Homo sapiens: one gene and its partners. The protein of the gene in region 2 interacts with the protein of the main gene of each other region in a biochemical or structural test. Each region holds a gene or a part of one and is shown on either strand. Other genes may lie near its edges.

Region 1 (3,751 bases), on a different chromosome or scaffold from region 2:
TTTCATCACCCAGAACTGCGGCCCAACCAGGAGAGGTGACAGTGCCCAGGGTCACCAGGCAGGCAGGCTTTGCAGGCTCCAGGGTGGCCGCAGAGCCCCTTTACCAAGACCCCTCCAGCCCCACGTGGAGGGGAGCCTGAGGCCTGGAAGGAGAAGGACCACTTGCCCAAACTGTTCATAGGCAAGGCAGGGGGCCTGGGTTCTGGCTAGTCTTTGTGTTTCCTACTCTGTGACCTTTGCGCCTCTCCCAGCCTGTGTCTTGGTCTACAACACGGGGACAGCCATCACCCACCAGGTCCCTGGGCAGAAGTGAGGAGGTGTCAGCTGCCCCCTGCAGTGCTTGGTCTTCATGCATTGAGCACCTGAGTTGTATATAGCTGCACAGATGGGTAAACTGAGACCCTGAGCGGGAATAACAACCATATTGGGTCAGAGGGCACCCAACACCAGACACGCACAAGTGATCATAGCAGGAACCAGTTTATTGGTTGAGGTGGTGGGGAACAGGGGGGTTGGAGGCACACCATGAGGAGCGAGGGCTCAGCTCTCCCCAGGGCCCTGGAAATCCATGCCCTCCACCAAGTCCTGCAGGTAGGCCTTGTACTGGTCGGAGGTGAGGGAGAGTGGGTGGCTGTTGGAAATGTGCAGGTCCACAGTATTCTCCAGGGAGGAGGCACCCCCTACCCGGGCCATTTCTACCAAGGCCCTGAGGCACGTGGGCACAACCTGCAGGGGAAGTGGGGACAGGAGTCAGGGAAAACACCCAGCCACTGTCCACCAAGGTAGGAGTCAGGGCTTGGAGGACTACAACTCCCTGCAGCCCCTGCTGTAACCTAGGATGAACCATAGGCCTAGGGCTGCTGGGAGTTGTAGTTTTACACACACACACACACACACACACACACACACACACACACACACCCCCTGCTGTAACTGAACCATAGGCCTAGGGCTGCTGGGAGTTGTAGTTTTACACACACACACAAACACACACACACACACACGTCAGGGCTGAGCAGTCTGTGATCTTGACTCCTGGGAGCCACAGCCATGGCCTCACAATGGCAGCTAAAACTTGAGTCCACCAGCTTCTACATGGTTTAGAGCAGGGGTCCCCAACCCCCCTACGGCTTGTTAGGGACCAGGTTGCACAGCAGGATGTGAGCAGCGGGTGGGGGAATATTACTGCCTGAGCTCTGCCTTCTGTGAGATCAGCGGCAGCATTAGATTCTCAGAGGAGCACAAACTCTATCGAACTGCGCACGTGAGGGATCGGCTGCTCCTTAAGAGAATCTAATGCCTGATGATCTGCAGTGGAGCAGTTTCATCCCGAAACCACACCTCCCTGTCCGTGGAAATATTATCTTCCATGAGACTGGTCCCTGGTGCCAAATAGTTTGGGGGCCACTGGTTTAGAGAGTTCAAAACAGGTTCTGCAGGTGAGGCCATGGGAAGGAGCTCCCGGGGATGAAAAACTGGTTATTGCAGAGATCTTGGAAGTTGCAGTTTTTTAGAGGGCCCTCTGGGAGTTGGAGTTCCTGGGAGCAACCTCTTCCCTCTGTAAGGCCACCCCTTTCAGCCCCAGGGACTCAGGTCTGCAGGCACCTTGACCATCACGAGCCTCTTGGTCCACGGCTGGTCCTGGGGCCATGACTCCCCCACACAGAACCAGAGGGCATAGCGTGGTGAGCGTCCGCTTCCTTCCGTGAAGGTAATCAGATCTGGGGGCCCAGGAGCCTAGTCAGGGATGAGAAGAGGACCCTCTACCCACCCTTCCCCGTAAACTTGAATGATAACCCCCACCACCTCCCCTGACCTAAGGCCCTCTGCTGCCTCGACCAGGGGACTGCTTGTTTGGGGAAAGTCCCCTCCTTCCCTCCCTCCCTCCCTCCCATCAGGGTGGGGTTGTTGGAAGGCCACACCCCCAAGCCCCCAAGCCTCAGCATTCATAACAGGCCCAGAGTAGGGGGCCCATGCTCCCAAGGATGCTCAGTGAATCTGGAGAAGCTGGTTGGCATTCAGTCCTGTCTGAGGCTGCATTGTCCAATTGCAGCCATTAGTCATGTAAGGTTATTTCAGTTTAAATTGTAACCAATTAAAACGAATCACGTCCTGGTTGCACTCGCCTCACCTGAGTGCTTGGCCCCTGTGGCTAGTGGCTGCTGCACCGGACAGTGCAGGTGACTGTCATTTCCATCATGGCAGAAAGTGCCACTGCACAGCGAAACCCTAAGGGATGTAGCTTTCCTGCTATTGGTCTGTTCACCATCATTAGTTACGATGATGATGACAGTGGCAGCTAATTCCCTGAGCAGGCTCTGTGTACTGGGCCTGTGTCTCACCCCAGCGCTGGCAGGCAGGTAGAGAGAGGAGACCATCCTTGGATTCCACGGGCTCAGGGCAAAGTCCTTTGCCTCGGTTATACAGCGGGCCAAGGGCAGCCAGCGTCTGAATTCAGTCCTAATCATGAGTTCTTTTTTTTTTGTTGTTCGAGATGGAGTCTTACTCTGTCACCAGGCTAGAGTGCAGTGGTGCGATCTCAGCTCACTGCAATCTCCGCCTCCTGGGTTCAAGCAATTCTCCTGCCTCAGCCTCCCGAGTAGCTGGGATTACAGGCACGTGCCACCACGCCCGACTATTTTTTTGTATCTTTAGTAGAGATGGGGTTTCACTATGTTGACCAGGCTGGTCTCGAACTCCTGAACTTGTCATCTGCCCACCTCAGCCTCCCAAAGTGCTGGGACTACAGGCGTGAGCCACCGTGCCCGGCCAATCCTGAGTTGTTAACCACTGTGCAGGCTGCTTTGTACTGGCCAGGTCGAAGCCCCTGTCTCACTCACCTACAATGAAGGGCCCCAGGTCAAACACGCCTCCTTCCTTGTCCTTGGGGACCTCGCCATCAGGCCCATGCCCGCTGTTGGGGAGCAGCTCCTCGCTCACTGCCCAGTATGTGTGGCAGTGCCCCAGCCGCTGGGCCCAGAGCCACTGCCCGGCCCGCCAGAGAGCCAGTCCCCCACCCAGGCAGCTCAGCACATGCCTCACGTAGCTCATCACTCCCCTGTCTGTCAGGGACATGCCAGGGTCTGGCAGTGTGACTGGCCATCCAGGCAGCGTCCTGTCTCCCACTTCGGACCCCACCAGCCGCAGGCCCTCCGGGCAGGAGATGGTCTGCTGGAAGACTTGGCGGCCCCGGTAGAAGGCTGTCACCTCGAACTCCCACTCTGAGCAGCGGCAGCAGCGGCATGAAGGGGAGAGGGGTTGAGAATCAGGGGCTGCCGCCCAGACCTCAGCCCTCCCAGCCTGCAGCTGACACTCACCTTCCCCCGGCACCAACAGCCGCTTCAGTGGGTTCTCAGAGGGCCCCAGGTTTGGGAAGGGAGTGGGATTGTCCAAGCTGGGGCTCCGCAGGGGCTGAGGGCAGGGCTCAGGGGCTACAGCCAGGCTTGGGGGTCCCGGATCTGGGAGTGGGGCCAACACCATGTTACCCAGTAACTCATCCAGAATGTCTTCCTGGAGGGAAACAAAAAAAGAGAATCAGGCATTTCCATATCCTTTTCTGGAGACTTCATATGGACCAGGTCTGTTCTCAGCAACGCAGGGAGGTCAGGCTTGAGCTCTGCCTTCAAGGGGCTTCCAGCCTGGGGACAGAGCCAGCCATGGCATCAACAGCCAAACAAACACTAATGAACGCCAGGTGCTACCATTCCAACCCAAGGATCTGGCTCTATGCAGGTAAGACCTGGGCAAAGCA
Region 2 (3,651 bases):
TTGCTCTGCCCATTTCACCTCCCTTAATTATGCTTAAGAACAGGAGAATTAAGACTTGTAAATACTGGTTGGCTGATTGTACATCAAAGAACCAGCAACTATTTCATTGATAACTATCATTATCTGGCAGTGTGTGGGGATTTCAAAGATGTCTGCTTCAGAGGAGCTCACATTTATACAGAAATGAGTGAAAGAAAATAAGAAAGACTGGCTTGTTTTTACCTTCTCACCAGAGAAAGTTTCAAAGGTACAGAAAAGGAGACAATAAATATAATGATGTCCCAGAGAGTGGCTGTTTTGAATCGCTAGATTCTAATGAGATAAACTGGCATTCCCTATCTTTATCCTAAGGCTTGTCATAAGAAATCTCTTAATGAGAAGTCAGTATTTTCTGGAAGTATCCTTGATTTTATAAAGAATAAAATCAAGCAGATCCACTGGTTCCTCTCTCATTCTGTCCTTCCTTGTCTATCAGAGGCCACGATGAACCAGCCATCCGTCAAGTACAGTACTTTATAAAACGGCTGTGACTCATGGAACTTCTCAGTTCATCAACATGGCTGAGAACTATTGGATACCGATATATATTAATATCGGTATCAAAGTAGAAGCTTCTAAACCCTTAAAAAAAGTTCTATTAATAAGGATTCAACTATTAGATGAGAATTTGGATTTTTATTATATACATAACCAACCTCTCACAAGGAAGCTACAGGTTGTTCTGGGTCTATAATTCTCTCATCTTATTTTTAAACTTTGGTTTGGGCCACAAGGACTCATAAATCTGCAATTTTTTTTTTTTTTTTTAGACGGAGTTTCACTCTGTCGCCTAGGCTAGAGTGCAGTGGCGCAATCTCGGATCACTGCAACCTCCACCTCCCAGGTTCAAGCCATTCTCCTGCCTCAGTCTCCCGAGTAGCTGGGATTACAGGCACCCGCTACCATGTCTGGCTAATTTTTGTTATTTTTTTGTAGAGACAGGGTTTCACCATGTTGGCCAGGCTGGTCTTGAACTCCTGACCTCAAGTGATCTGCCTGCCACAGCCTCCCAAAGTGCTAGGATGAAAAGTGTACACCACCGCGCCCGTCCAAATCTGCAATTTTTAAATTCAATCTCTAGGTTTTATGGCTCAAACTGTTTGAAAAAGATTCCTTAAATATATGTAAAATTTATGTGCTGCACTAAATAATATACTAAATAAGGAGAAGGATTGTGTCCCCTTGTCGTACCCCTTTACGTACCTTCAGACCTCAGGGTACAACATGAAACATAATGGTCAAAGTCAGAGCTAAATAAAATCTTTATGCTCCTGCTACGATAGGTACTATCACAGGAAGGCAAAACAGGATACAAAAGTCCCTAATGAAAAATAGATTACATTCTACTTGTGGAGAAAACAGTAAGAGATAAAGCAAAAGAGAATGGAAATGGCCCAGAAGTAATATAATACTACAGTATAGCTCTAATGATTCTGCCTAAATCCAAATCTCTACTTACTGGAGTTGCAGGCTGCGGAGGAAGCAGCGGTGCTGTTGGGGTAGGAACAGACGCTGCTGTGCTCTGCTGTGAGCGAGGCTGCTGCTGGGGCTGGTCAGCAGAAGGTGCAGCAGGAAGTGAAGGCTGCACTTGTTGGGGAAGTTGTGTTGTTGGTGGTGTAGGTGTCTGCCTTGGAGGGGGATGTAGAGCCTGGGACTGTGGCCCAGGTGGCATGGCAGGAGGTGTAGGAACAGGGGCTGGAATTGTTGTTGCTGGTGGCTGCTGAGCCCCTATGCTTGGGGGAGTATGGTGAGGGGTGGGGGTACGACTAGGTACAGGCGAGGGTGAATTCTGATGAAGAGCTGGTTGAGGAAGCTGGGGACAGTGAATGTGGCTCCCCTGAGACCCTGGAGGCATTATAGGAGAGTTCACCGGGCAGGAAGAACTAGACATTTGTGCCTGTTAAAATAAAAAACATAACAAGACAGCAATTCAGAACAGAATTAAGGAAATACTTACATAGGCATGATATATAAATTTAGGACACAAACTGATTAAACAAAGAGTAGCAATGTGTCTATTTCAAAATGTGTAAAATACCCTATTACTGGGCATGTATCTTTGGACAGCACCATCAAGATAGTACTTAACTAAAGAGACTTCAAACCATTCAGCAGAATGGCCTCAGCCACCGCAGAAAAATGGCAGAATTGAGTGCAGAGTGCTCTAGGGCCTGCCTATGCTCTTTTCAGCCAGATTTCCTTCTACATTGTGTTTAATTCTAAGATTTATTTTAAAGTGTTCACTAGTAAAAACAATTAAAACTATCCATTTAAATTATTTCCTACTTTGTAACAATTAACACCATTGCTATGTCACAGAATAATCTCTTCATGTTCAGAATACCCTAAGTCCAAAATTGTTATTTTTTAAAAAATCATCTGTTTTCACCCACTATTTGCTGCCACTCTCTCCTATAAAAACCTACATCAAGAGAAGTTTCAAGAATCAAAAATAAGTGAAAAATCCACTTATGAGACATACTTGAGACACTGGAGCTTGACCGCTGGACGGAGCCAAAGGGATATTTGTTACATTCATTCCCTGTGATGGGAACTGAGTCTGAGGAAGGAACTGGCCCTGGTTGGAAGGCTGTTGCATACGAGGCCCATAGCCCATAGGCTGAAAAAAAAAAAAAACACAAATCACCAAACTGCTTCATTATAGTTATTCTACTATAACTAAAATCATCAAATGCTCCTAACGTCAGGCTTATTAAGTAGAGAAAAGCCAAAGACAGGAGTATAGGTGAAGAGGGCTGAAGAGGAGAAGGAAGAAAGTTGTAGAACAACTGACTCTTGTGCCAAGATAAAGAGAAATAGCCTCACAGTTTACCTAGGCCTACTCCAAGAAATAGTAAGAGGATGGAACACACATTCTCTTGGTACACAAATATGCCTAGCACAAGGATAGCAGGTAATTTTCTTTGCATGCTCTGTTAAGTGAGGAGAGTTAATCACAATTTCATGAGGTCATGTCAGTGATGTAATAACACAAATTCTAAGACCCATAATATGTAAAAACAAGAAAATCTTACAAGTTGTAGCAGAATCTGGTAGCATTCATGGTCCACAAATGCTCTAGCACTGTTACATGTCATTTCCAAAATTACCCTACACAAATTCAGGCCTTAAAGAAAGAAATCTCGAGTACCAAAGGCCAAAAACTTCATAAGCTAAGACCATCTGTCTTATAGGTTAAAATGAAGGACAGAACTCCCTGTTGAAAATGGCAGATTAGTGAGAAGTAGTAATGCTCAGGAACCCCCAAAAGGGTCAAGAATCAGAGGCACCAGCTAACTCTAAAGGGCAGCAGGAGGGTTAGGGTCAAGGTAGAGAGATGGACTGGTTAAGAGTTCGCATAAGGAGCAGGAGAAGCCTAGTCTCTCTTCTCCGAGTTCAAGAACCAGGCAAAAACGCACCATCAACCTTGCAAGACAGTTCTCTGCCTGGAGGAGGGAAGACAGACATCAGGGAAGAGAAGTGACCGTGAAAACGCATGCAGGCCACTAAACACTGACACTCCAGGGACAAGGGACTGGCTGTTTTCGTTTTTTGGTCAGCTTTCTAGTAGAGTTAAATACAGAAGAATTACAGAAGAACTAGGAGTTATGG
Region 3 (3,651 bases), on a different chromosome or scaffold from region 2:
TTCACGTGGACCTGCACTAAAGGGGTGGAGCTAAGTATAATCTAACACCAAAATCATCCCCACAATGCACTACCCCCTCCCATTCACTGAGCTCTGAAAGGACTCAAATGGACAAGTCTCTCGGTTGGAGGATTGTAAGTGAACTTGGCTGTAGATCATGAGCAGAAATCTTGGCTTCTCATCTGGGGAGCCAGCCAAGTTTGAGAAGTTGGCTCAACAAGGAAAGGCAGCAGTCCACTGCCTGGTAGAAAGCCTGGGCTGGGGACTGTTGTTCTCAAAGTAGTGGATGGAATTTCTGTAGTGGTTCCAGGCCCAATTTAACTAGCAGAAGAGTGGAATCTTACACCAATCCCTGCTGCCATGTCCATCCCTGAGCTACTAGTGGAGTCAATTTTAAATCTCTCAGAGACAATGGCAAGGATGTATTTTTCTCTTCCCCAAGCTTGATTTGAAAGAACAAGTTAAAAACATGCAGAACTAACAAGCCTAATTCCAGGCAACTGTGAATTAAATGTTATCACTAATGTTTTGAAAGAGCACATGAAAAACAGAAAAACCTTTACACAAGGCTGAGAATTCTCTGTGGGAAACATTTCCAAACCACAGATCCACCCAGACCAATAACACTGCCCGCGCCTCATCCCCACCCCCATTGGAGGACTAGTTTGCAGGCTTTATCACTGCCTTGTTAACTGTCTTTGCTTGCTGGCAACCCTTTTTGAGAGGGCCAAGATTTCAGAGTTGAAGAAGAAAAACTGGGTGAAGACTCCCAGTGTAAGGCATCTAATATCCTCCCCCAAATGCAAAACTGGTTTTAAAAAACAAGCCCAAACAATTGTCTTGAACAAATAAAACTCTACTCAGATGAGCCTGTACTGAGAATGATGTTCAGTAATGAAAACAAATGGTACGGAAAACCCCCTTGTGGAATTAATTAGGCCCTATTCTAGGAGACCACAGAGGTATTCTTGGACTGTACAGCAGGCTCCCAAACATCTCCCCTACACATCCTATGGTTACAGTGGCTGGATGCTGCCCACTCTTCTAGTACGCTGGATTTGTACGTCTGGATGTCTGCCAGAAAACCCTTCCTCCAGGGCATCCCTAACAGAAATACTAAGGGGCTATGCAGTGGTCCACAGATGCTCAACAGAAACTCCCGCACCAAATCACTTCCAGCTTTGACATCTCTGCCAAAGTTTTTATTCAGCCTCTCAGTTATATTTCTACCCAACTTTCCACACTGGTAGACAGAATAAAAATCTTCACCTACAATTTGTCCATCTTTGACACTACCAAGCACGTGTATCTTAAGTGTTGTTAGATGTTGAAGACAAACATTATTTTGTTAGCCAAGAAGTTGCTATGTTGGCAAGAAGTCATCTAGGCTAAGGAGGTCTGTTCAAAATTGAGGGAAATCTCTTAAAATTATTTCCTTCCAACTTACTGCAGAGAGACTGCATCTTTGTTCAAGGCATCACATCAGTCAGTAATCTTATTTCCTCCAAGTTCTAGGCAAATAGCACGGGGAAATAAATGCTTCATTATTCCAGGATGCACAAGGTTCTCCAGAACAATGCCATGTCTTACAGGCTACCTGACAGCTAACCCCACCTATAAGGGGAACCATCTCAATTCTAATACAGAAAATTCTCAGCATATAGGGAATTAGTTGCCCACTCAATATTTACTACCTTTACAAAATGTGAAGGTTGTATTTTAGAGGGAAGCTTGTGTTGCTTATGATTCTTATCAAGCTATTCTTATTAGAGACTAAGGACACGAGAATACACAGACCCAAAAATCTCATCCGAAAAGATCTATTTCTTACTTCTGATAGATAAGAACAAGATAGGATAAAGCTCAATTTCTAAGCAACTTAAAATATTCATTTTAATCAACCCAAAAATTATAACATAAAATAATAGGCAGGTAGGATGGGATAAACTCACCAAGCTCCCTAAGAGAAAGACATGGATTTCAATTTTCCAATACCTGTCCTGCTTGTAGCTGATTGCCTGGTATACATTTCCAACATTATCTAATGTATGTATTTGTTTTCAAACTTTTTTCTTTTGGTGCCTAAAATAACTGGCAAATGCTATAATCCAAACAGGGCCTCATACTATAGCCATTTCAGAGAAGGATGCCTTGGTCAGGAAATTTTAATTAAAAACCAAGCTGAATTCTTTGACCAACTATTTCACCGTTACTGGCATCTTGGAAAAATTCTTTTAGACATAAGAACAACTTTTACCCTAACACAGGCACATTTAGGAACTAACTCTGGCATTTGTTATCACTGTAAGCATCACTGTCAACACTCTAAGCAGAGAAAAAGTACATGCATTGTGCAGCACTTTTGCCATGCAACTGACTGCAGGTAAAACAGACAGTAGTTTCCTGAGTGAATTCCAATCTCGGAGGCTACCAAGCTCGTTCTCTTCTGAATATTCCTAAAGAAGCAAAGAGCTCTGAGAAGTTAAAAATATTTCATGCCAGAAAGGTCCAGAAGTGGAATTGCACAAATCTGTTTTCAAACCCCTCACAAGTATACTGCAACTGCAACTCAGTCAGGTGCCATCAAGGATGGTCACTGGAAAAAAAATTGCATTTCCTGACCAACACACTAACCCATACATTTCCTGTATACTTACACTCTTTCCTAAAGAAATTTCCCAAACAGAAATAAAGCAAAAGGAAGCCCTTGCAATATAATATACCTGTCCCACAAATTTATCTTTAAAATGCAACCTCTTCCCTCCAAAATATAATAAAAATAACATCAGTGGGATTTTGCGATGTACTGAATTTAGTAGTAAGAATACTCTTTGGGGTTACTTCCTTTAACAAAGCTTACTGGCCATTGGAGAAGCTGTTTTCCGTTTGTACTGAAGCAATAGAAAAAAATATTTGCCAAATCAGTTTCACTTTCTGTTAGAGTTAGCCTAACTTCCTAACTCTCTTCTCAGTATCTTACATTTCTCATGTAGTAAGGCCTATATATTGTAGTGACATTATAAAACATACATGAATGTTTTTATATTAGGATCCACAGAACCCTTTTCAAATAACTTTTTCAACATCTTCTGTAGTCCTGAATACCTAAGTATTTGGTTGTTCACAGTCCACATCTTTTTTTAAACCTTTTTTCTAAGGCAAAACTTAAGAATAGCTCCCTCTTAAATTTTAAAAAATATATTTATTATCCATATTAAATATTGAGAAGTAAGCAGATGCATTCACAGAGGGGAAAAAATGGAATCCTTTTTACCCTACACAGTCACAATAGTTGTTTGATATACTATAAAATTTGTTTATAACATATCTGCTTTTTCTCTCCATGCTGTTGTAATTACATTGTGCAGAGTAATATTTAGAAATATCAACAAATAGATGTGTTAAATTAAAAACAAAGTGTCAAACCAACTTCCTTTGCCTACCCCCAAAATCAAAAGGAAAAATCCTAGGCACCTTAACAGCAAACTAAAAACATCTAGACAAAACAATGAGATTAGCATTCCAGGAAAGCAGAAACATTATAATAATTTAATAACAAATTTATATCAACGATCATATGGATGAAAATTTTGAAAAGCAGAAAGCTTTCAAGAACTGCGAGCCAAAATTTCACCAAAAAAACAAACAAAC

The links.
Region 1: the proteins of EP300 (region 2) and IRF3 form a complex in vitro, tested with the Homo sapiens proteins (3 studies listed by BioGRID, with this or other methods).
Region 3: of the proteins of EP300 (region 2) and MAX, one has a biochemical effect on the other in vitro, tested with the Homo sapiens proteins (3 studies listed by BioGRID).

The regions. Positions count from the first base shown.
Region 1 is NC_000019.10:49,659,108-49,662,858, forward strand, and holds the end of IRF3 (interferon regulatory factor 3), read right to left. Parts: intron 3,511-3,751; coding exon 3,318-3,510; intron 3,222-3,317; coding exon 2,841-3,221; exon of another isoform or gene 2,343-2,840; intron 1,738-2,342; coding exon of another isoform or gene 1,722-1,737; coding exon 1,606-1,721; intron 727-1,605; coding exon 541-726; coding exon of another isoform or gene 482-540; 3' UTR 465-481; downstream 1-464.
Region 2 is NC_000022.11:41,148,046-41,151,696, reverse strand, and holds part of EP300 (histone acetyltransferase p300), read right to left. Parts: intron 2,660-3,651; coding exon 2,522-2,659; intron 1,937-2,521; coding exon 1,499-1,936; intron 1-1,498. UniProt on the Homo sapiens protein: Functions as a histone acetyltransferase and regulates transcription via chromatin remodeling. Acetylates all four core histones in nucleosomes. Histone acetylation gives an epigenetic tag for transcriptional activation.
Region 3 is NC_000014.9:65,095,897-65,099,547, forward strand, and holds part of MAX (protein max), read right to left. Parts: intron 1-3,651. UniProt on the Homo sapiens protein: Transcription regulator. Forms a sequence-specific DNA-binding protein complex with MYC or MAD which recognizes the core sequence 5'-CAC[GA]TG-3'. The MYC:MAX complex is a transcriptional activator, whereas the MAD:MAX complex is a repressor.